2 separate regions of the Homo sapiens genome follow, and region 2 is linked to region 1. The links come from fine-mapping of genetic effects on gene expression. A gene starts in region 1. The other region holds a variant in brackets. All regions are shown on one strand. Distances are from middle to middle.

Evidence for each region. PIP is the estimated chance that this variant, and not a neighbour inherited with it, causes the effect.
Region 2: its variant is fine-mapped to the expression of DMD in nasal epithelium (TOPMed, PIP above 0.99).

The regions. Positions count from the first base shown.
Region 1 is chrX:33,206,067-33,217,821 of GRCh38, reverse strand. DMD (dystrophin) reads left to right here and starts at 6,273. Exons shown (of 79, transcript NM_004006.3): 1 at 6,273-6,540. The coding sequence starts at 6,510.
Region 2 is chrX:32,889,886-32,901,640 of GRCh38, reverse strand. The region is part of intron 2 of DMD (dystrophin); the gene reads left to right. Among named protein-coding and RNA genes, the nearest start is that of MIR548F5, 250 kb to the right of the region's middle. The variant T/A (reference allele first, on the strand shown) is at 6,870.

The DNA.
Region 1 (11,755 bases):
AAATGATGAGTTTGTTAAGGTCTTAGGATACAAGATCAACTTATAAAAGTCAATTGCTAATCAATGAATATGAAGTTTCATTTATATAAGATGAATAAGTTCTAGAGATCTGCTGTACAACATCGTATCTATATGTAACAATACAGCATTATAATTTAAGAATCTGTTCGTTGGGTAGATCTCATATTAAATCTTATCACAGTAAAATGATTATTAAAAATTAATTGTATTTTTGTATACAAGCAATTAACTACTGAAACCCAAAATTTTTCACATAGTATCTTGCAGTCACTCTGAAACAATGAAATACTTATGAATCTAATAAAACATTTACCAGATCTATATACTACAAACTAAAAAGCTAAGGAAATAATGCAAAGACTTAAATAAACGGAGATATATACTGTATTAATGGAATTGGAGGATACAACATAGTAAATATATCAATTCTTCCAAAACTAATCTATAGTTTGAATGCAATTCCTATCAAAACATCAGTGAAACATTTTTGTCTATTTGGACACCCTCCAAATTGCTTGAATTCTATTTGTCTTATTTTTTCTGGTCCTAGTGCCTATAAACTCACTCACAAACTAGCATATTTTCCCATTGGACTTAACTAAAGAGATTTTTTAAACACCTAAGAAATATATGCCTTATAATATGGGTAACATTTCAACCAATATGGATCACTGTGGAAAAAGGAAGTAGAAATGATCCATAATGATTTTTTCCCTAATCAATAAATTTGTGAATTTTATATAAGTATATTACCTAATAAGCCTGTTTCTCTTCAACTTATTTGTCCTGTGAAGCTGCATTAATCATAATGCTTGGAATTATATTAAATAATCAAACAAGTTGGGAAAATGACCCTGCACTTCCAAAGTAATATAAAATAATGCCTTTAGGGTTTCCAATTATTTAAGAATTAACTCCTTGTTCACTTTACGTTTACCATATTCAGTTCTTTCTAATTAATATGCCATCTATTTAATAACACAAGGATGACTGGTTAATATTGGAATATAATCATGGGCCAGTCTTCATTTTACAACATGTATCATCTAAGTGTAGACAAAAAAAAGTAATTTAAAAAAATGTGTATGAGTTCACTGTAATAAAAATTATGCTTTATATTTTTGAAAAATGTATGTCTAATTAATTCATCTGTAAACAATTGTAATTTCATTAAAATTTTAACAAAATAATTTCAACTTTCATTTTGAATCGGGGGTACATGTTCAGGAGTTTGTTACAAGGGCATATTGTGTGATGTGGAGGTTTGGGGTACTGATGATCCAGTCACCCAGGTAGTGAGCATTGTACCCAGTAGGTAGTTTTTCAGCTCACACCCGCTTCCCTCCATTCCCCCTCTAGTAGTCCCCAGTATCTCTTGTTCCCATCTTTATGTCCACTGTGTACTCAGTGTTTTGCTCCCATTTATAAGTGAGAACATGCGGTATTTGGTTTTCTGTTCCTGTGTTAATTTGCATAGGATAATGGCCTCCAGCTGCATTCATCTTGCTGCAAAGTACATGATTTCATTCTTTTTCATGACCATGCAGCTAACCAAGGAGGTGAAAGAACTATACAAGGAGAACTACAAAACACTGCTGAAAGAAATCAGAGACAACACAAATAAATGCAAAACATTTCATGCTCTTGGATTGGAAGAATAAATATTGTTAAAATGGCCATACTGCCCAAAGCAATTTACAGATTCAGTGCTAATCTTATCAAACTACCAACGTCAATTTTCATTTTTCATTTTCATTAGAAAAGACTAATCCAAATTTGTATGGAACCAAAAGAGCCCATAGAGCCAAAGCAATCTTAAGCTAAAAGAATAAAGCAAGAGGCATCACACTACCTGACTTCAAGCTATACTATAAGCCTACAGTAACCCAAACAGCATGGTACTGGTACAAAAACAGACCATAGACCAATGGAACAGAATAGTGAACCCAGAAACAAAGCGACACACCTATAACCATCTGATCTTTGACTAAGTCAACAAAAATAAGCAATGGGGAAAGGACTTCCTATTCAATAGATGGTGCTGGGAAAACTGGCTGGCCACATGCAGAAGATTGAAATTGGACCTCTACTTTTCATTATATACAAAAATCAACTGACGGTGAACTAAAGGTTTAAATATAAGACCTCATACTGTAAAAAATCCTAGAAGAAAACCTAGGAAGTACCCTTTTTTACATTGGTCTTGGCAAAGAATTTATGACTAAGTCCCCAAAAGCCATTGCAACAAAAACAAAAATTGACAAGTGGAACTTGACTAAGCCAAAGAGCTTCTGCAAAGCAAAAGAAACATCAACAAAGTAAACAGACGAAGAATGGGAGAAAATATTCACAAAATATGCATCTGACAAAGGCCTAGTATCCAGAATCTATAAGAAACTTAAATCAACAAACCAAATACAAATACATTCATTAAAAATGGGCAAAGTATATGAACAGACACTTTTTTTTTTTTTTTTGAGATAGGGTCTTGCTCTTAGTCCAGGCTGAAGTGCAGTGGCACAGTCTCGGCTCACTGCAAACTTCACCTCCCCTGCTCAAGCGATTCTCCAGCCTCAGCCTCCTGAGTGGCTGTGATGACAGGCGCCTGACATCACGGCTGTATTTTTTTTAGAGATGGGGTTTCACCATGTCGCCCTGGCTGGTCTTGAACTCCTGAGCTCAAAGCGATCTGCCTGCCTCAACTTCTCAAAGTAATAGAATTACAGGCATGAGCTAACACACCCGGCCTGAACAGACACTTCTTGAAAGAAGACATACAAGCGGCCAACAAGCATATAACATTTTTTAACAACGTAAACATTTTTAAATGTGCTTCTTTTTACAAACTGGCCGAGTGTGGTGGCTCATGCCTATAATCCCAGCTCCTGGGGAGGCTGAGGCAGGAGGATTACTTGAGGCCAGAAGTTAAAGACCAGCCTGCGCAACATAACAAGACCCTGTCTCTAAAAAAAATATTAAATTAGCTGAATATGGTGGCATTCACCTGTAGACCCAGCTACTCAGAAGATTGAGGCAGGAGGATCACTTGAGCCCAGGAGTTTGAGACTATAACGAGGTATGATTGTGTCGCTACACTCCAGCCTGGATGACAGAGCAAGCCTCCATCTCTTAAATGAAAATTTCTTAAAAAGCAAAAACAAACAGGAAAAGAACGGGTTTTGGAAACTCTGCTGTTTTCCTTTTTTTGTGCAATCACATGCATAACCGACAGTAGTGCCATTATATTAGAAATATTAATATATCTAATCACAACACAAAGCACTGTGTAAAAAAGCCGAGTATGATGAAATAAATTAAAGATAACCTAAATATTGGACATATGTACTATGTTAATGAATTGGAGGAATCAATGCGGTAAAAACATCAATTCTTCCAAAATGTATTCATAATTTTAATGCAATTCCTATCAAAATTCTACCTGAAAGATATTCTGTAGATAGATCTGTAGATCTATTTGTAGATAAACTTATTCTAAAATTTATATGGTAAATTATAACCACACTCTGGGACATGAATCTAGAGGAATGAAAAATGAAAAACTACATGATTGTTTTGCAGCTTTATTTGTAGTGACCAAACCCTGGAAACAACGAAAATATCCCACAGTATGTGAATAAAGTAACTATAGAACATCCATGCCATGAACTACTACTCAGCAATAAAAGGAAATAAGCTATTGATGACAACTTAAATGGATCTCAAGTACAGAATGCCAAAAAAAAAAAAAAAGCCAATCTCAAAAGGTTACATACCGAATCATTGCATTTATCTAATATTCTTAAAATGACAAAATTACAGTGATGGAGAACAAATTGATTGGTACCAGGCTTTAGGGATATTTAGGGAGGGTGACTGTTGTGACTGTAAAGGGGTAGCATGAGGCAAATCTCTGTGGTGATGAAACAGGTGTTTATTTGTGGAGGTTGAGGTTACACAAATCAGTGATGAAATAGAAATATGTATACATATCAATGTCAGTTTCCTGGTTTTGATACTGAATTGTAGTTATTGTAGGATACTGAATTGTAGTTATTGTAGTTAATCTTTGGGAGAAACTGGGTGAAGGGTACATGGGATCTCTGTATACTATCCCCGCAAATTCCTGTGAATCTATAAGTATTTGAAAATAACAAGTTAAAATAAATTTTTAAAAATTCTGTGACAGTTATTAAAAATGGAAATTTGAGCAAGTTCCTTTATTATGGGGCTAATAAGACCTACAAGATGTAGTTATTCTGAGGACTAAAGGAGAAAGATAAGTGATTAAGGGACACAAGAAAGTACTGTGGTGACACAGTCTGAACTGGAGTTCAATTTGTTCGGTCTAAATTTTATTTTACGTGCCTTTCACTTTTCCAGTTATTGTAAGCATATATTTGCACCTGGATTATAAAATCTTAAGGGAAGTATATGCATTCCACACAATGCAGAAATCATTATAGGTGCCAAATAAATTCTGATTATCAACTAAGGCTGAATGGCAATTAAATGTATCTCAGGGCATTCAGATCTATCAGGATTTGGTGCTTTAGACATTACCCAGGACACATCTTTGTTACATTTAGAACCACGGTTGTTTTTAGAAACATACACTTTAGGGTTTCTCAAAGTTGACCATGCATTAGAATCACCGGTAAAACACAGAGTGCTGTGTCCCAACCCCAGAATTTCTGACTTTTGAGGTCTCGTGTCAACTTGCATTTCTCAGAAGTTCCCACGTGATATTGATGTTGGTTTGGGACCGACAAGTTGTATTCACGCCTTGGCCTAAACAAGGGTTTATGTTTGTAGAAAACTCACAGTGCAAGATACAAAGGGCACTTATACTCTGGGCAATATTGTACCTCACAGCATAGAGGGACACTGATGCTAACATGCAGACTTAGAGCCAAATCAGCCCCAAAACAATTTTTTCATTTTTTCTATGTTGTTTTATGAAAATTTTGCTTATATGCATATTTAGACAACCACACTGAGAGGAAAGGAGGTGACCTAGGGAAAAGAATGTTTTAAATTAAAATTAGGCCTTATGTTTTATCTCATACACCTTTTGCTGGGGAAAATAGCAATGTTATGACAATAATATTCTAAAACACAAAATGTACAATTAACTATTAAGGTAAACATCACAGTCTGACTCAATATTTTTTTAATTTTTATCTATTACTCATTGCAGTCGCAAGCAGTTGAATGTTTGACATAGAAAAATGAGTCTGTCACTTTAACAAATGGTACAATAAAAACACTCAAACAAAAATTTTAGTAGGGATTATTATAACTATAAAAAGAATATCTTTCTTTAAAAAATGTTTCCAATGTTTTCTATCAATTTTGGGCTCGCCTGTTGCATAAAAGTAATAAGGAACAAGATGAAGAAGCTTTCTATTGGCAAAGAATGATTTACATGCTGAATGACATAATACAACTGTATTCACTTAATACAGAAAACAAGCCTCTATTCAGAACCATTAAATGATCATTAACTCAATGTCTAAAAAAATGGTGTTTTAAGAATTGGCACCAGAGAAATGGAAGAAAGAATAATTTGTTAGTAAAGAAGTTTTAGCATAATTCACAACTGAAATTTAGGATTTGAGAAAAATTTCTTTCCTGCATTATAAGAGTATTCTTTATTTTAGCAGGAAAACATGTCCCATGAGACCTATACACACACACATTCTGCCTTCAGAATTCAGCTGCTGCATTCTGCTGCTGCTTCTCTTATTCAGACTGTTGGCATCATCAATACATAACTTTTGATTGAATCCCAAGGGGAAAAAATAACTTTGGTAGACAGTGGATACATAACAAATGCATGGATTATTCTGGGCATTCCTTTTTATTTGGTAGAGTGAAATTTTTGGTGTTGTTGAGAGGATAAAAAAGGCATTTAAAAGTCAATTTTGAATCCGGATTTTCTGCTCTGTTAATAAATTCACATGAAAGTTACAGAAAGTATTGTTATGCTTTTGTACTGAATAGTTTTTGTGTTTAGAAGGCTTTAAAAGCAAGTACTATGTCCACTGTGCTATTCTGGTTTGGATATTAATCAGAACACAGTTGAGCATTGTTTGAATTCACAGAGCTTGCCATGCTGGAAGCACAACCTTATATGTAGTGACCATGGACAGTCCTATTATGGGAAACCAACTTGAGAGAGAAGGCGGGTCACTTGCTTGTGCGCAGGTCCTGGAATTTGAAATATCCGGGGGCCTCTACAGAATCCTGGCATCAGTTACTGTGTTGACTCACTCAGTGTTGGGATCACTCACTTTCCCCCTACAGGACTCAGATCTGGGAGGCAATTACCTTCGGAGAAAAACGAATAGGAAAAACTGAAGTGTTACTTTTTTTAAAGCTGCTGAAGTTTGTTGGTTTCTCATTGTTTTTAAGCCTACTGGAGCAATAAAGTTTGAAGAACTTTTACCAGGTTTTTTTTATCGCTGCCTTGATATACACTTTTCAAAATGCTTTGGTGGGAAGAAGTAGAGGACTGTTGTAAGTACAAAGTAACTAAAAATATATTTTACTGTGGCATAACGTTTAGTTTGTGACAAGCTCACTAATTAGGTAGATTGATTTTAAATTATCACAGTAGTTTGCAAAGAAGCATAAATGTTATATATACTGCATATATATATGTATTTATTCAGGAATATATATTTTTCATTGGGAAAACTTTTCAACAGAAATGGAGTGTAAAAGTTTTTCTTTGCGATAGAACTAAACACATGATTTCTTGATTAACAAACCACTGCAGTAATAGAATATGCAGAATGTCATTTGACTATAACAGATTTATTTTGATTGCTGTGAGATAGTTTGTATATCTGAGTTATTATTTTGATTAGTTGATACTTCCGTATTTAGTAACAGTTACATAAAGGTTACTGACCTGACATATATTCTCAATTGAACTAACTACTGTATAGGAACTACATGGAGGCCTAAAAGTTAGAAAAAGTTTCTCTGACACATCATGGATAAAATAAAGAATAAAATGAGTTGGGACGGATAATTGAAGGATGTGAAAAGTATTGATAAAGATTTAATTTTAATGTTTCTTACTCACATTTACTATTTCAAATGCTCTTTTCTGTAGCATATCATGATAATTATTTCAAATAATGATGTGATCTATGCTATCAAATGATCAGATGATTTCTTGGGTAAACGACATACAAACTTGAGGAACTCCTAATTATATTTAGTAGTAAAGTCACCTTGTTGTTTCATGTCTATTATGAGCCAGCTTTTCAGTTCAATTTTTTAGTTTGTCTTTCATATAGAAATACAACTATTTCGTTTATTTTTAAGAAAGTCATGATGACTAATGAAGGATTTAAAAATGGACTGTGGCACAACAGTAAAAATAATATATGATAAGGACTGTGTGTCCCGAAGAGATGGGAGTTTATCTCTTCCCCACCCATCTTTGACTTGTGGAGTGTAGTTATTCTAAAATAGATATGAGGGCAATGCCTATAATTAAGAATGAAAAAATAAATCTCTCCAAATAAGTAATGCTCCACAACTACTAAAAAAAAAGGCAGAAGTTTTGCCACTGGGAAAACTTTGTGGAAATAAGTTAACATTGTCCATGTATTGAGTCACATTAAAAGCTACCAGACTTTATAATACAATATTTACTTACATTGTTGGCTTGCTTCATAAATTTCTTTTGGTGGACATCATTATTACTTTTAGATTGAAAAACTATTATATTTACTATCATTACAAATATATGCATGGCATATATCTGTTGTTTGCAATATACACACACATTTTTATTTTTTGTTTTTATTTCTTTGATATATGTAACATAAATACCATCAAAATCACTAGTGATTTTATATATATATATATTCTACATAATTAACATCATATACAAGTATATAGAGCAATTTTGAAAGAATATATGCAATTCTGCTGAAATTAAGCAAGGTAAATCTACACTCTGCTTTGTCATAGATATTCAAATAACTTTCAATTCTTAGAATGCGAAGAAAGGTAATCTTTTTGGGACATGCCCTGTAGGATTTTTTCACGCTGCATTTAAAAAATCATCAAGTAATGCCTATGCAACATGACAATGAGTTTGGTAAGAAAAAACGGAGATATACTCAGGGCTATATTATACATTAAATTTTGCTGTTTGACAACATACTGCTACTTGGATGTTTGACATTTGAATCCAGTTTGTAAATTTGCCGTAGTTTGATAAACTTACAAAAGTACGTTTTGTTGTTTTTTAACCAAAACAGTTACCCTTTAAAAGAGATCACTGTATTGTCAAACATATTGTATTGTTCACTTTTAGAATTACTCAAATAATGCATTGTAAAGAATTATTCAAATAGTGTACTGCAAATAGACATTTCATTTGAATATATTTAAATGATGTAAGTCATCTGAGGTCTAATAAAATCACCTTTTAGAATTTCATCTGCAGAATCTTTTAAAGACATCTTAACTACGAAAAAGAGATTGCTGATCTAAATTGATGATATACTGTTAATACAAAGCTTTTGGTGTATCTTACATGACATAACATTATGAAAAATACAATAGAGTATGTCATATAGATGTTACTCTAAACTTTAAAAAAAGACTACAAAGTGTTCTATGCATAATTACATTATTTAAGGGGAAAAAGGTGTTGGCTGACACTATTCCAGCTAGACAGTACTGAATTGCAAATTCATCATTTGGGCACAGATATTAATACAGCTTCCTCTTTATTCCTATAGCATTCATTTGAAATCCCTGTACTCCATGTCATTTGCTACATATGAAACAAATTGTCAAGTTTTTAACCACTTGTGTAGTTTAATAAAAGAGATTAAAATCATTGTCTTGGAAACATCAGGTGTTTTTCAAAATTCTATTTTATTATCTTTCATCAAAATTTTATCTCAAGAGTAAAACAAAGTCATTTCCCAAACTTTCCTTCTCCTTCCACCTTCTATTGTAATATTTTCCTAACTTATTAAAAATGATTTATCATACTTTTTCATCAACTCTTTATTTCATCACACATACAAGAAACACAGTATTTTGGTATGAGTATATATATTTATATATATGCACATTTATATGCATTCAAATCACAGGGTATAAAGTTTCCTAAGAGGGTCTAATTAGAAATTAACCTTTCTTTAAAGATAATTTTCTGTTCATTTTTCTAAATTTTCTATTTTAAACACACATCATTTTTTAAGGAATTGACAAATGAGACTAATGTACATTCCCTGTCTGACAACACAGAACGAACCAGGAAGAAAGGATTTATGGGGCCTGAGGTTATACAATTGGGGGTGCTATTTTAAGAAAAATAATAGAAAATTGGATACAGCCTTGGGAGGGGCCCCTCATGTAAGTAAGGCTTTAATAGTTTCTTGGGAAATCACCTCTGTATGAAGAGATGTGTTGACATTTAATCTTTTCCCAGTTACATTTTAAAATAAAATTGATGCTAGTTATATTTCTTTAGAGCATTTATTATTTCTCAAAGACAACCTTTTATTTAATGCAGATTAGAGAGTTAAAAGAATTTATAATGGTAGGAATTTGACATTTCTGCCTTTCATTCTGAAAAGATACATTGATTAAAGTGATGTCAAACTCAGTTAATGGAGGCGGTGCAGTTATTTGAAATATACAGGGTATATAATTTGAAGGCACGCCAAATCACAATGACAAGGAATAATGATGACCTTGGTTTATTTTTATACAGTACATTCAGGTTTTGATTGGATTCAGAGAGAGGCAATGGTTTTCTTTCTCACAAAGTCCTGCTATAGTCCTAGGAGGTTTGTGTTCTGTTATCAAGGCAGTTGGTTCGTATTGGAATATTTTCTGGGGAAGGTCATGGGCTGCAGTGTGGGAAATAAACGTTTTTATTAAATGCAACCAGGTTTCATGAAAATATTTCCCCTTGTAGAGTGTGCTCAATGCAGTATACTGATCTTCAAAAAACAAACAAACCAAGCAAATAAATAGTTTGTAGTCTTCACCTTTTCCCTACGTAAAACATCTATTAGTTAGACTTCCTTGGGGTTTCATGCTATAAAATATTGACATATGTTTGGAGTTCTGAAGTTTCATTTTAATACAGATATCAAAGTTAAAATGGCAACACCATGGGATAATTTATTATTTTACCAAGTTTGGAGGGTTTTTTCTATTTATGTCACTTATAGAATTGTCCCTAAAATCCTTGCAAAATTTCAAGCTCCCTCTACTTAATACTAAAAGTGAATGTGTCTTCCAGAGATTCTGATAACCCCTTCGAATGGGAGAGTAACTCTGCTATTTGTGAATCACTCCTATACTAAATATAGTTCCAAGATTAAAAGCTAAAATGATTTTGTTTATTTTTTCATGAAATTTTTTCATGAAAGGCTTGATAGTATAAAAAGTCTGTTTCCCTCATATATTACAGCATATTATAGCATTCAATGTGCCTTCTTAAACCAGATGGCTCCTCTAGAGATTATGAAATACTTTAACACCCAGGGCATAGCCTTTCTGTTTCCCCATTCAAGATTACTTCCTTGAATATGGCCCAACAAAAAGACCAAAAAAATACATTTGGCTCCAGCGTTTTAAGGGCATATAAATTTTCTTAAGCACAATTCTGATAGGCAGCAGACAAATGAGAATGAGGAAGGGAAATGGCTCTGCTGTCTTATGCTTAAAAGTGTCCTCATATAGAGAGAAACAACACACCCTGGGGCCTTTCGGAGGGTAGAGGGTTGGAGGAGGAAGAGGATCAGGAAAAGCAACTAATGGGTACTAGGCTTGATACCTGGGTGATGAAATAATCTGTACAGCAAACCCCTATGGCACAAGTTTACCTATGTAACAAACCTGCACTTGTAGCCCTGAACTTAAAAGTTAAAAAAAAATAAAATAAAAAGAGTCCTCATCTCACGGCCATACAACCTCTACCTCATTCCCATTAAAAACACAAAGATCAGTACTCCCTCTTTTATAGCTCACATCTTCTGTTTAGGCTGCCATTTTAAGGGATAATTTCTATTCAACTCTGAGCTCGATCTTTATTTTAATCTGATATCACTCGTTCAAAATACTTGGGAATTTCAGTAGGCAACGGAACACACAGAGCAATTTTCTGGAGGCCTACAACCTCTGAAGGTGACTTTGCGTAGTATATGTAATGATAGTAAGCCCTGAGAAAACCAATGTTCTTAGTAGTCTGGATTTGGTTTAGAAATCAATGTATTCCTGCTTTCTTTTGTGATCTTTTGCCTTCTCCCTCAATGCCTCACTTTCACTCTGTCATTATGAACCCCATTCCTCACTAATGGGAACTGGGGGAGAATGGACAATGATCCTTTAATTGAAATGGAGTTGTCATTTCCTTGCCATGCTGATAAAATGTTGTTGCTGTTGTTGTTTGTTGTTGTTCTTAAATGACTCTTTCAGAATTTTTAACTCAGTATTTTGATTACATACCATTTTAAGAAAATAATTGTCCATAAATTAAAAATGCTAGCAAATTGATGAATTGATTTTCTCATGCCAATTTGGAAATCTGAAATATATCTAAGACTGGTGAATAATATGTAGGTCTAATTGCCATTTGAATAAAAGAATCTGAGGAAGAGCTTTGCCTTTATTTTTGTTTATTATTCATTTTAGTTTAGTTATTTATTTTAGTAGAAAAATGTGGTTGTGTCAACGAAGA
Region 2 (11,755 bases), 320 kb after region 1:
AAAACTAGGTTTTGAAACAGCTGCTTATAATGCTGATATTTAGCACATGACTAGGTGGAATATGGACTTTTTAATGAATATTTTTTCAAAGTTAGGTAATTTCTCATCAGTCAGTTTCAAAAGCAAAGTTAAAATTTGTGTTTCAAAAAACTGGGTATGTTTGAAAATTGTATTTAATAATGGATTTTGAGAGTTCTCAATAGCAAATTGCTTGGCTGACTGTAGTTTAAGAAGTAATAATTTTGAAGAGAAGTTGAATGCAGGTACTTTCAAAGTGTTGAAATTTTTAAAGAAGAAAATTAACCTTTTCAGACTGTACACTTGTTCATCTTTTATATTCTTTTCCCTTTAAAAAAGAATTGTAGTAAGAAGGGAGATTACCTTCTGTCATTGATACAAATTTTCCACAGTATAAATGCTGTTTATCACATTTGTATAATATACACTTCCTATCAATTTTAAAAATTACATGTTACTACTATTTAACTCTGACTTAATTATTTTAAATATAAAATAATTCATTCTTTTATAAATAATCAAAACTATAGTTTTACTTTTCTTTCAAAATATACCACTGACTACATTACAGATTAGATTTTTTTTAGTATACCAAACATATTTTCATCTTTTGGAGTTATTGGAAGAGTAGCTGCTTACTGCCTTACATTTTAGATTTCTCTATATAACAAGCATTTTCATCATTTTGGCTTATTCGAGTAATTCTTAATAAATAATAATACAATATTTACAAATGAGATGTCATTTGCAATTTTAACACTTCATAATTTTAACAAAATATCTTTACTTTGAGTTTTTTACTTTCCTTTTGGTGTGACATTTTGACCTCCAATGTGATCTTCATTTAAAGGAAATATCAACGAAAATTCCTTTTTTTTCATTTGCTATAGATGTACATATAAGATTTACATGTGTAAGGAATATAGAGCAATAATGAATTGAGCTATTCCTCATAATCACTTCACTTAAGAAATAGGGGGCTGGGTGTGGTGGCTTGTGCTTGTAATCCCAGAGTTTTGGGAGGCTGAGGTGGTAGGATTGCTTGTGTCCAGGAGTTTGAGTCCAGCCTAACCAACATATCAAGACATTAAGTCTATGAAAAAATTAAAAAATTATCTGGGCATAGTGGCATGCACCTATAGTCCTAGCTACTCAGGAGGCTGAGGCAGTTGAATGGCTTGAGCCCAGAAATTCAAGGTTAGACTGAGAGCTATGATAGTGCCACTAAACTTCAGCCTGGGAAACAGAGTGAGGGCCCTTCTCTTAAAGAAAAATTGACTAGAATATGACTAATACTCTAGAAGCCCTCCTCCACATGCCACCCTTCCCAAATGCACCACTATTCTCTCTTCCCAATTTTCATTTTTGTATTTATTATTCCTATTCATACCAACACAATTTTACCAGATGTGTATGTATTTTCAGCAAATATTTTTAGTTTATTATGCACTTAATTGACACTATGGAAGAACAGCTTTTAAGATATTATTCCAACTTAGGGAATTTTAAGGAAATAAGACCTTTGTATATAAAAAGTTAAATAGGAATACCGATTTGCTTTTGATTAGTGTTAAATCACATAAGTTTAAATTTGTAGGAGATCATAGAGATCAGAAAGCCCAGTGGTTCACAAACTTTCTTTTTTTTATCAACAAAACCTCTTTTAAAAATATATAGCATAAGGAAGACGGAACCATAAAACTGAAATTACAGCAGCTCAACTGAATTGTGAGTTTCAACTGAACTCAATTTCAAACCCACAAATAAGTCAAACTCTTACTTTACTGAGAATATATTTGGACCACACAGAGTTTAAAAAACATGTTTAAATTTATTTAGCTTATTTATACCAGAACCAATATAAGAATCCATAACATTCTGCATTAGAATTAAGTACAAACACTTTTTCTTTCTTTCTTTTTCTTTTTCTTTCTTTTTTTTTTTTTTTTGAGACGGAGTCTTGCTCTGTTGTCCAGGCTGGAGTGCAGTGACGCGATCTCGGCTCACTGCAACCTCTGCCTCCCAGGTTCAAGTGATTCTTCTGCCTCAGCCTCCTGAGTAGCTGGGACTACAGGCACGTGCCACCACGACCAGCTAATTTTTGTATTTTTAGTAGCGACGGGGTTTCACCATGTTGGTCAGGATGGTCTCGATCTCTTGATCTCGTGATCCGCCCGCCTCAGCCTCCCAAAGTGCTGTGATTGCAGGCGTGAGCCACCGCACCCGGCCGTAGAATTAAGTACAAACACTTTCTATGATATTATACTAAATTAAAAACAGGAACTCAAAATGATACAAACTGAACTGAAATAAAATAAAATAATACAGTGAATGGAGTCCACAATTAAAATACCTGCAAGGACCTGAAAGGGAATGGAAATAGGTGAAGCAAAGATCTAAATGCATACGGACATTGTGTAAATTGGAAAGAATACTGGCAAATGGCACGCCTGTGCCCAGTCTAAAATGGGCAACTGCTAATCAATTCAGTCTAGCAGTGTCCATGTCAGAATGTAGAGCTATTTTTGGCCATATATTTTATTTTTCAAGAGGAACTTAAGAATCTGGAGTTGTATGTAAAACATCCCAGTGCACTATATATTTGCCTCATAAGTTGAGCACTTTTTTTTATGTGTGCATGTTGTCTACTGGTGAATCCCAAGCACTTGGAACAGTGCCTGATATATAGTAGGCAGTGATGTATATTTGGTGGGTAACTGGAAAAAGGTTTTCCAATTAAAAATTCTGTGCAAGCCTGAGGTAGGAGTTGGGCAGGACTTATTTCCCATTCCCAGAGGATAAAGTGAAGAAACTGGCAGGTACCAGCAGGCAGCGACCAACGGAAGTGAGAAAAACAGCAGAAACCAGCAGATGGCAACAAAAGTGATCCCCAGCAGCCCTCATTGCATATTAGCAGAAGCCACTCCCACCAGCACCATGACAGTTTACAAAGGACATGGCAATAACCCAGAAGTTACCACCCCTTTCCTAGAAAGTTCTAAATAACCTGTCTCTCAATTTGCATTAATCTGCCACTTAATTTACATGTAATTGAAAGTGGGTATAAATGGATATAAATACAGTAGCCAGCAGCCCATACCCTGCCAACTTTGGAGGCACTGCCTATGAGTTGTCCCTATTTCACAAAGCGCAGTAATGTTCACTAAAACATAGCTGTTTAACGCCACTGGCTCGCCCTTGAATTCTTTCCTAGGCAAAGCCAAGAATCCTCCCAGGCCAAGCCCTGATTTTGGGGCTTAACCTGTCCTGTATCAAACTAGCCAAATGTATCTCAGGCCTGAATTAGATCAATGGCTACCAGTTCAAATCTTTTGTTTTAGATATTAGAGAGGCAGGAAGTGACTCTCTACTGTGTAGCATGATACTCAGAGCCCAGGAACTTCTTCAGAATCCCAGTTTGACTTCCAAAACGCCAGTGTCTTGCTTTTATTTACTCTTGTGGGTGGCAGTAAGGGAAGGGAGCATATCTCCTTAGCAAAACATCTCATCAGAACACGGTCCATAGCACAAATTATTAATTAAAGACTTACGTGGAGGCTCAAATATAGAGCCAAAGCATAACCATTTAACAATTATCCTTCAAAGCAATTTTATTCTTGGCTTTTGGTGGAAAAAACTCTTAAAAATAAAATGATAATTCTACATATGGGATTTGTGATGCTATTTAGCAAGGATATGCTTTATTGCCTGACATCCCCTTTATTTTGGCAGAATACTATGAGATTCTCATTACGTTTCCATTTGCTGCGGAAAGTGGAGAAAAGTTCAGAGGGGGAAGACTAATTAAAAAAATGGTTGTCTACTAATCCATTGAACTAAGGCTTCTTAACAGTCATGCTCTTCTTAATAGTATGAACACACATTTTGTATTGATTGCAGAGAATAAAGAAAAAGAAATGACTTGTTTTGAACTTCAAAATGGAAAAAATGAATACAAAATCCAGATAAGCCTTTGGGCATACCAACTTTTTCGACTTGTATTATATAACAACAGTTGGCAAATGATTTCAAGTTGCTAAAGCATAGAAAATGATATTTATTTGATGAAAGCTAATAAATCAGACAGAACAATTAATGGATAATTTGGATTGAACAAGTATGAAAGATTCCACCAATAAGAACCCTCCTACCTAAAACTATGAGGTTTTTAAATGAAAGACTCTCCTAATGTCATAGATTTTCTCTACCTGTGCTTTATCTGAAAATAAAAATCACAGCTTTTCCCTTCACCTCTTCATTCTCTACTCCTCCTTATATTTCCCCTTTCCTTCTTCCTTCCTTCTCCTTCCTTTACTCTTTGTTCTTTTTATTCCTGTTTGTTCTGATTACCTGTGATGTTTTCTAAAAACATTAAAATTTTGGTCACCATTAATATTTTTTACAATGAATTAAGAAATTTATCTCAGAAACTGGATTTGAACCAAAGCCTTGTTTTGAACTTCTAATAAGTAGACTGAGGAACAAGCACGATTTTAAGGGCATATTTAATAGGCAAAATAAAAAAAACGCATAAAATGCCCAGTCGTTGATGAAAAAAATATATTTTTGTAATTGCTGTTATTCAGGTGCTTGAAGGCCCATGTTAAAGTATCACTGGAGAAGATAAAAAGCATACTTCCTCAATGTGAAAACCCTCAAAAGAAAGGGCTATAAACACTTTGTCCTGAATATTTGTTGTTTCAATTGCTGACGTTTAACTTTTCATCTGACAGCAATTCAAGTTCTGCGTACCACAGTGTTGTTGAATCTTTGAATCTGAAAAATATTTTCCTTGCAGCTGTGATAATAATGTATCTCCTGATAATGCATTTAATGTGGCAAAGACACTTTTCTTAAACACAGTGAAAACTAAGTGTTCATTTTGTCATTGTAAAATGAGACATGTTTAGTTGCTCCAAATTTTAACTTGGGTAACCTTGAGACATAGTTGCACATTTAACATCCTATATTTTGCTTGTCTTGCAGTCAAGTGAATTATCTTAGTTACTGGAGTGTTACGTGACACCAATTGTTTTGTTACCACTGCTTTAAAAATAGCTCTATCCCTAGACCCCATCAGTAGTGTGTCTTTTAGGGCCCCGATTTTTTTCTAATCTATAGGTTAGCCCTCAAGGCAACGTGGCCTCTTTCTGTTTACTTCTCATTATTCCTGTAATTCCAATTCTACATGTGACTCTTTGCTTTATTTTAAAACAGTTGTGCATTGCTGATGAGCCTTGAAGTCACCAGGGGTGGCTGGTGTCAATAGTGAGTCTGTACATGGCTATTTTTATCCATAAAGCAGTTTACTTTCTGTATGATGAAAGGCGTTAAAGTAAAACCTGCCTCCTATTATACCCTAGGGGTGTAATCAAGAGGGATTTGATCATAGCATACCAATTAAGCAGGCTACAGCAGACTGCTCTGGGTTGTACTAAGGAGTAGGGTGTTCTCCACAGATTTTTGAACCCTTTATTGCAAAAGCATCAGGGCACAGCACATCTAATTCTTTTCATCGCACAGCTGTGTACATAAACCTCTGTATACAGTTTCTGCTCAGAGGCTGTGCTCTTAGATTTAATTTTTCTTATAAGTCATTACAGCCGTGATCATTCATTTAAACCTCGGCAAGATAAGCATTACTAGTTCCCAGTAAACTAGATGATCTCTTCCTCTAGACTGTATTTTCTCTTATGAACAATTATAAGATTACAAGACTAGCAATGTTGCTTATTTACACTACACTACACACACACACACACACACACACACACACACGTTCATTCCAAGCCAGCAGCCAGCTCAGCATCCTTGAAAGCTCTCAACCTCAGCCGAATATATAAATATCAGAATTCTCTCTACCACCCTCAATTAGAAAATGTTCCAGTTCTGCTTTTAAACTTCCACTCCAATTCTTCTTGCTAAGGCCTGGAAGCCTCAAGGTTTCTTGTATTGCCTTATATACACCTGGATTATTCCTCTCTGTTGAAAACTATGTCCCATTGGAATGGGAGTGTCTGACCAGCTGGTGCCCAAGAATGCTCTCAGAAAACGATCTTCCACAAGCCAGAGCCAAAACCCAAACCCTTGACCCTTATCAACCTTGACGCCCAAAACTCCAGGTGTGGATTAGCACAGTAACCCGCAAACCCACTCCTACACGAAGGAAGATTTTTCTAGAACAACTACAGCTCTCCTTTTATATTTTTGGGTAATTCAGTTATGATGAACTGAACCAGAAGTATAAAGTATTTGCTCAGTTCAGTTCTTAATCTTTGTCATGGTATTACAATACTAAACCACTTGCTTTGTCACTTTCATATAGCTCATAAAAGAAAATATTACTGTATAAAATAGATTCTGTAGTCCTTCACTTGTTGTTATGGACTGACTATTCGTGTTTGCCCCAAATTCATATGCTGAAGCCCTAACCCCCAATGGGACGATATTTGGAGATGGAACCTTTGGGAATTAATTAGGGTAAGATAAGCACATGCAGGTGGGGCTCTGATCCGGTGGCCCGTGTAAAGAAAACACCAGAGAGCTTGCTCTTGCTTTGCCATGTGAGGACACAGGAGAAGGTTGTTGTTTACATATCAGGAGGAGAGCCCTCTCCAGAACTTGAACACGCTGGAACACTGACCTCGGACTTAAAGCCTCCAGAACTGTGAGAAAATAAATTTCTGTTGTTTAAGCTGCCCAGTCTATGGTATCTTGTTACAGCAGGCTGAAATGAGTAAGACACTTGTATTGTCCCTGCGGTTGACATCTGACTCTGTAAAAACACCCATGCATACACACACGTACACACAAAACAACAACATAACCAGTAAGATAGGTAATCAAGTATA[T/A]GGTAAATGCACCTGATTGCAATAATGTGCGCATACCCTTAGAATGACCCTGTACTGCAGACACACCTGAATGTGTTTTCCGAGCTACGGAATCTGGGAGTAGCCCAGCAAGAGAGCCCTTCCTTGTCTATGAGGAACATCTGAGCCCCAAGTGCATCCCGTGGAACACGGGCCATACATACAGCGGATTGAGGCCCCGAGTTTTGGGTTGGATGAAGGTTGCCAGGTGAACGTCATTAAGGGCAGAGGGTTAAGTAAAAATGCTATATAAACTGCATGCTGCCCGCAAGCAGCGTTGGTTTGCCCGCTCATCCCACCGCCGCCATCACTACCACTGTGCTGCGAGGCTATCTTGTCCAGTCTGCCACCACTGGATCGTTTCTACAGGTAAGGCACTTCTCCTGTCCAGCCCACCACTACTGAATTCCCTCCCCTGTATGTAAACCTCTAATAAAACCCAATGCCTCGTTTGCTGGCTATGGGTTTCTTCCTCAGTCTCTTGAACCTGATGCCTTCGCTATTGAGGGTTATAGGGGTTCAGTACAACATCATGATGTGAACAAACGCGTTTATTTGGGCAGATGTATTGGTCAGCTCTCAAAACAATAATATCAAGTAATAATCATTACCTCCAACTTAATGGTTTTAAATAGCATTAATTCTCATGGTCATGCGGGGTTTGGCTGACCTAAGTTGATCTAGATTTGGTTCTGCATCAGGCTGGTAGTTGCTAGGCTTGGCTTTCAGCGGCAGGTTTGGTTTGGATTTCTTTGATGTGTCACGTCCAGAGGCACACACTGGAATGGCACCGGCCACCCAGTGCATGTTTTCATAGGTTGTCACTAGATAGCAAGCCCAAACATGCCAGCCCATCTCAAGGCTCTGCTCCTGTCATGTTTTCTTAACACCCCGTTGACCAAAGGCTATCACATTTCCCACCATAGGCTAGATATGCCATCCTATTAAGTAGGAATGAGAAAGTGGGGACCAATAAATCAACCTACAGTAGGAAAAGTAGGGGATTATTTAGTAGCACAAACAGATGAGTTTCAGTGGGCTTGCTGCTTTTTTGTGGATATGGAAGAAATACCTAAAAAAAAAAATTTCCAGCTCCACTACAATATTTAAGAAAAAACTTAGGTGTGTTCATAGTTTACTACTTTGCTTAATAACCCCACTGTTTATCACAGCAAATTTAATCACCTCTGAGGGGTTTTAATGGCTTTGATAAGACAAAGAGTAAATTACTGAGGAGGAAGACGGTCACTTTCACATCCTGAGAGATGCTAACTGTGCAAGGTAATTCACATATATCTTGTAAACATGTTTGCAAACATATATAGGAGATAGGTGGTATTCTCATTTTTTAAGGAAAGAAATGGAAGACATGAGAGAATGAGTAATATGTTTAAGAGGACACAGCTGGAAACTGGTATAATCTGGCTCTAAATACGGGCTTTTGTGTTACATTGAACAGAGATAAATTCAGCTTATGTTAAGGAAGCATGGGGTAAAAAGGTCAAGAAACTGAACAACTGAATAACCAAATAAGTAGGCGAAACCATTTGGTTACTCAGTTGTCTGACCAACCGAATAATCAAAACAAAAATGTCACATTAGAAAACTACGATCAGTGTAATTTTATGAATAATTGAACTATTGAGACCATAGTGTAGCAGCTGATCTATCACGTCATGGGATTCCATCATTCATTCTCATGAATTAACTACTCTCAGTCCTTGCTTTTAGCATTACCTCTACTCCCTAATGATACATGATTTTTACTCTAACATAAACTTCCCAGGAGAAAATGTCTGATAAATATCATAAAATCATGAAAATATCTGATAAAGTCATCATCCTGCATCATGTGTGGGAGACTTAAGTTTGTAACTCTTCCCATTCCTTTAAGTTGGTTTTCAGCCTTGCTTACACGATCATTGTGGCCAGAGAGACAGAATGTGCCAAGCGTGTAGGCCTGAGCTGGGAAACAATGTCAATAAGTAATACAGTATAGGGGATGAGAAGTTTGCCAAATAATACTTGGTGTGTAATGTTATGAAAGAAAGGGGGCATTAGAGGCCGGGTGGCTCACGCCTGTAATCCCAGCACTTCGGGAGGCTGAGGCGGGTGGATCACGAGGTCTAAGAGATCAAGACCATCCTGGCCAACATGGTGAAACCCCGTCTCTACTACAAATACAAAAAAAAATTAGCCGGGTGTGGTGGCAGGTGCCTGTAATCCCAGCTATTTGGGAGGCCGAGGCATGACAATCGCTTGAACCCAGGAGGCAGAGGTTGCAGTGAGCCGAGATCGCACCGTTGCGCTCCAGCCTGGGCAAAAAGAGTAGAACTCTGTCTCAAAGAAACAAAAAACAAAAAACGAAAACAAACAAAACAACATGGCGTGGGGGGCATCAGAAACACACAATGGTACAGATTTAAAAGCTCCTCGGGTGATGCTAATGTGTAGCCAGGGCTGAAAACCTAAAAGAAGAATGTGCAGTAATGTTGCCAGTACTGGAAGGAAGTGTCTGAGTTTTGTCTAGTGACTGACAGAAGGCTATGAAACTGTAACAGTTGTAAGGGGTTGAGGGAAAGCCGAGGCCAGATCATGTGGATCATGTGCAAATTGTAGGTAAAATGTAAAGCTGTGAGTTCTGTGGCCTCACTGAGGAAGCATTTCTCTGCTTTTCAGGAAGTAACTTGGAGTTGAGTGCTCTATGATTTCCAAGTTGTCAGCTAACACATTGAATAACTGATGAATTATGGTTCTGTGGCCTTCATTTCTGTGTCACGTGGCTATACTGTTCATTGGCATATGCAGGCAGTAACCCCCAAACTATGACGCGAGAGGATGGCAGGATTCCAGGTCTGAAGAGAAAAAATGATTAGGCTGGGGAAGAATGATTTGAGGAACCTCAAATCAGACTATGGCAGCAACTACTAGGTGTAGGGCTTCATGCCATCCAGCCTTGGAGTTGTCAGTTTTCTATTAATCTTTGCTAACAATAAAATACTAATGGGTACATAATGTAGTGATTTACAGATGATAGACTCTCCTTATGTTTTCATTTTGTCTCAACAGAGTCCAGCATATTTCATCCAAATTTTACTGATCAGAGAATTGAGGTACAGACAGACCATGAAGGTCATGACAGTTGGAAAGTGTTGGAGTAGAATAAGGAAGCCTGATTTTTCTCATTTGTCCTACATCGCTTTATTAGATTGTCTTCTCCAGCCTTACCTCCCCGCCTTATAATTCTTGATTTTCATGAAACCTATTAAAGGGAAAGAAAAGGAAAACTAGAAAATTTAATTTAGATCACTTTTAAAAATCACTTTGCATCTTGGACTGTTGTCATAAGTTATAGGATTAAATCCTAATGATTCTAATGTTGTTAGGCCATCTTAATTTATATGATCCACTTACCTCTCAGTCTTCTCTCACTGGCTCACTCACCTGCCCTCTGTATATGAGGGGATTGAGAAAAGTCTGTTTTTCATTATGTGTAGATACACAGACTGGTGTGTATGTAGCAGGAATAAATGTTCGCAAAACTCAGATGTGGAAGAAGTAACTCTGAATTTTTGCCCTATTTTTGAACTGTACTCCAGGCCAGTGCTGTCCAAAAGAAATATAAGCTATATATGTAATTTAAACTTTTTGAGTAGCCACTTTAAAAAGTGAAAATAAACAGGTGACATTAATGTTTTATTTAGCTAAAATATTTCAACATGTAATCAAAAAAGACTTAATGAGACATTTTACGTTAGTGAAAAGAATGTACTAAATCATTAAGGTTGGAGGATATTTTACATTTACAGCACATCTGAATTCAGTTGCCATATTTTCATGGGTTAAAGTAAACTTGTTCTCCCAAACCAATGAAGTTATGGTTAATGGAAGAATATTAAAAACTGTTTGTTTTCAATATAAATAAAATTGAAGCAAAAATAAAGCAAAATGAAAATTTGGCTTCCTCAGTTATGCTAGTCCCATTTCAAATGTTCAGTAGCCACATATAACTAGTGGCTATCTTACTGGACAACATAACCCCAGATCATGATAAAACGTTCTGATTTCCCGAATTTCTTTTTTTTAGACAATCTGGGATGTTTCGCCTTCTTACCAAAGAAACAAAAAGGTGCTGGTACTTTTTGTTTGCTTGTTTTTCAGCAGTTGCCATTGAAATGTGTTTCTTTTGGAGTTGGATAGGAAAAACCTAGATTCTTCCTCCAAGGTGTAGTCTCAACTGTGCCCCAGGCATCACTGTTTATGATGGATTAAGGGTGTGGCTTTTCCCAGATAATGAGTCCCCCTCCCCCACCCCCCACAGGCCTTAATATCTACAGCTCCTGTCAATAGACTGGCCTTTCCTTCCCCGCGAAAAGTTTGAGTCCTTTAAGAATCTAGGTCTAAGGTTAATTTCAACGAAAGGTTTATTTTCTCTTTCTGCGAGGACCTATGGAACTACCCAGAACATATAAAGCAGTCCACAAGGCTCTTCAACAGCTTCGTAACCGGGCACTGCTAGTTCAGAAACTCACTGACTTCTGAATGTCCATTTCACATTTGCAGGCTGCTTCTCTGAGTCCTGAGCTCTTGTCTCAAGATGACTTGGCTCTTAATTGTTGTCTGATTTATTACCGGTTTGCTTTGCAGTTTAGGTGCTGGACAATGATTCTTAGAAATCCCCACATAAGGATCTACATGCAGTGGCAGTGAATCTCAATAACTGCCTTTTCTTGAATCTGAACTTAATTTATATATAAAGCCTACTTTCCGGTAGATCCTGCATATTTCATCTCAGCCAATTTAGGACTGAGATGCCCCCCCTTTCTCTGGGGTTTTGTCTTAAATTTCTGGAGGGGACCTGATTGTCA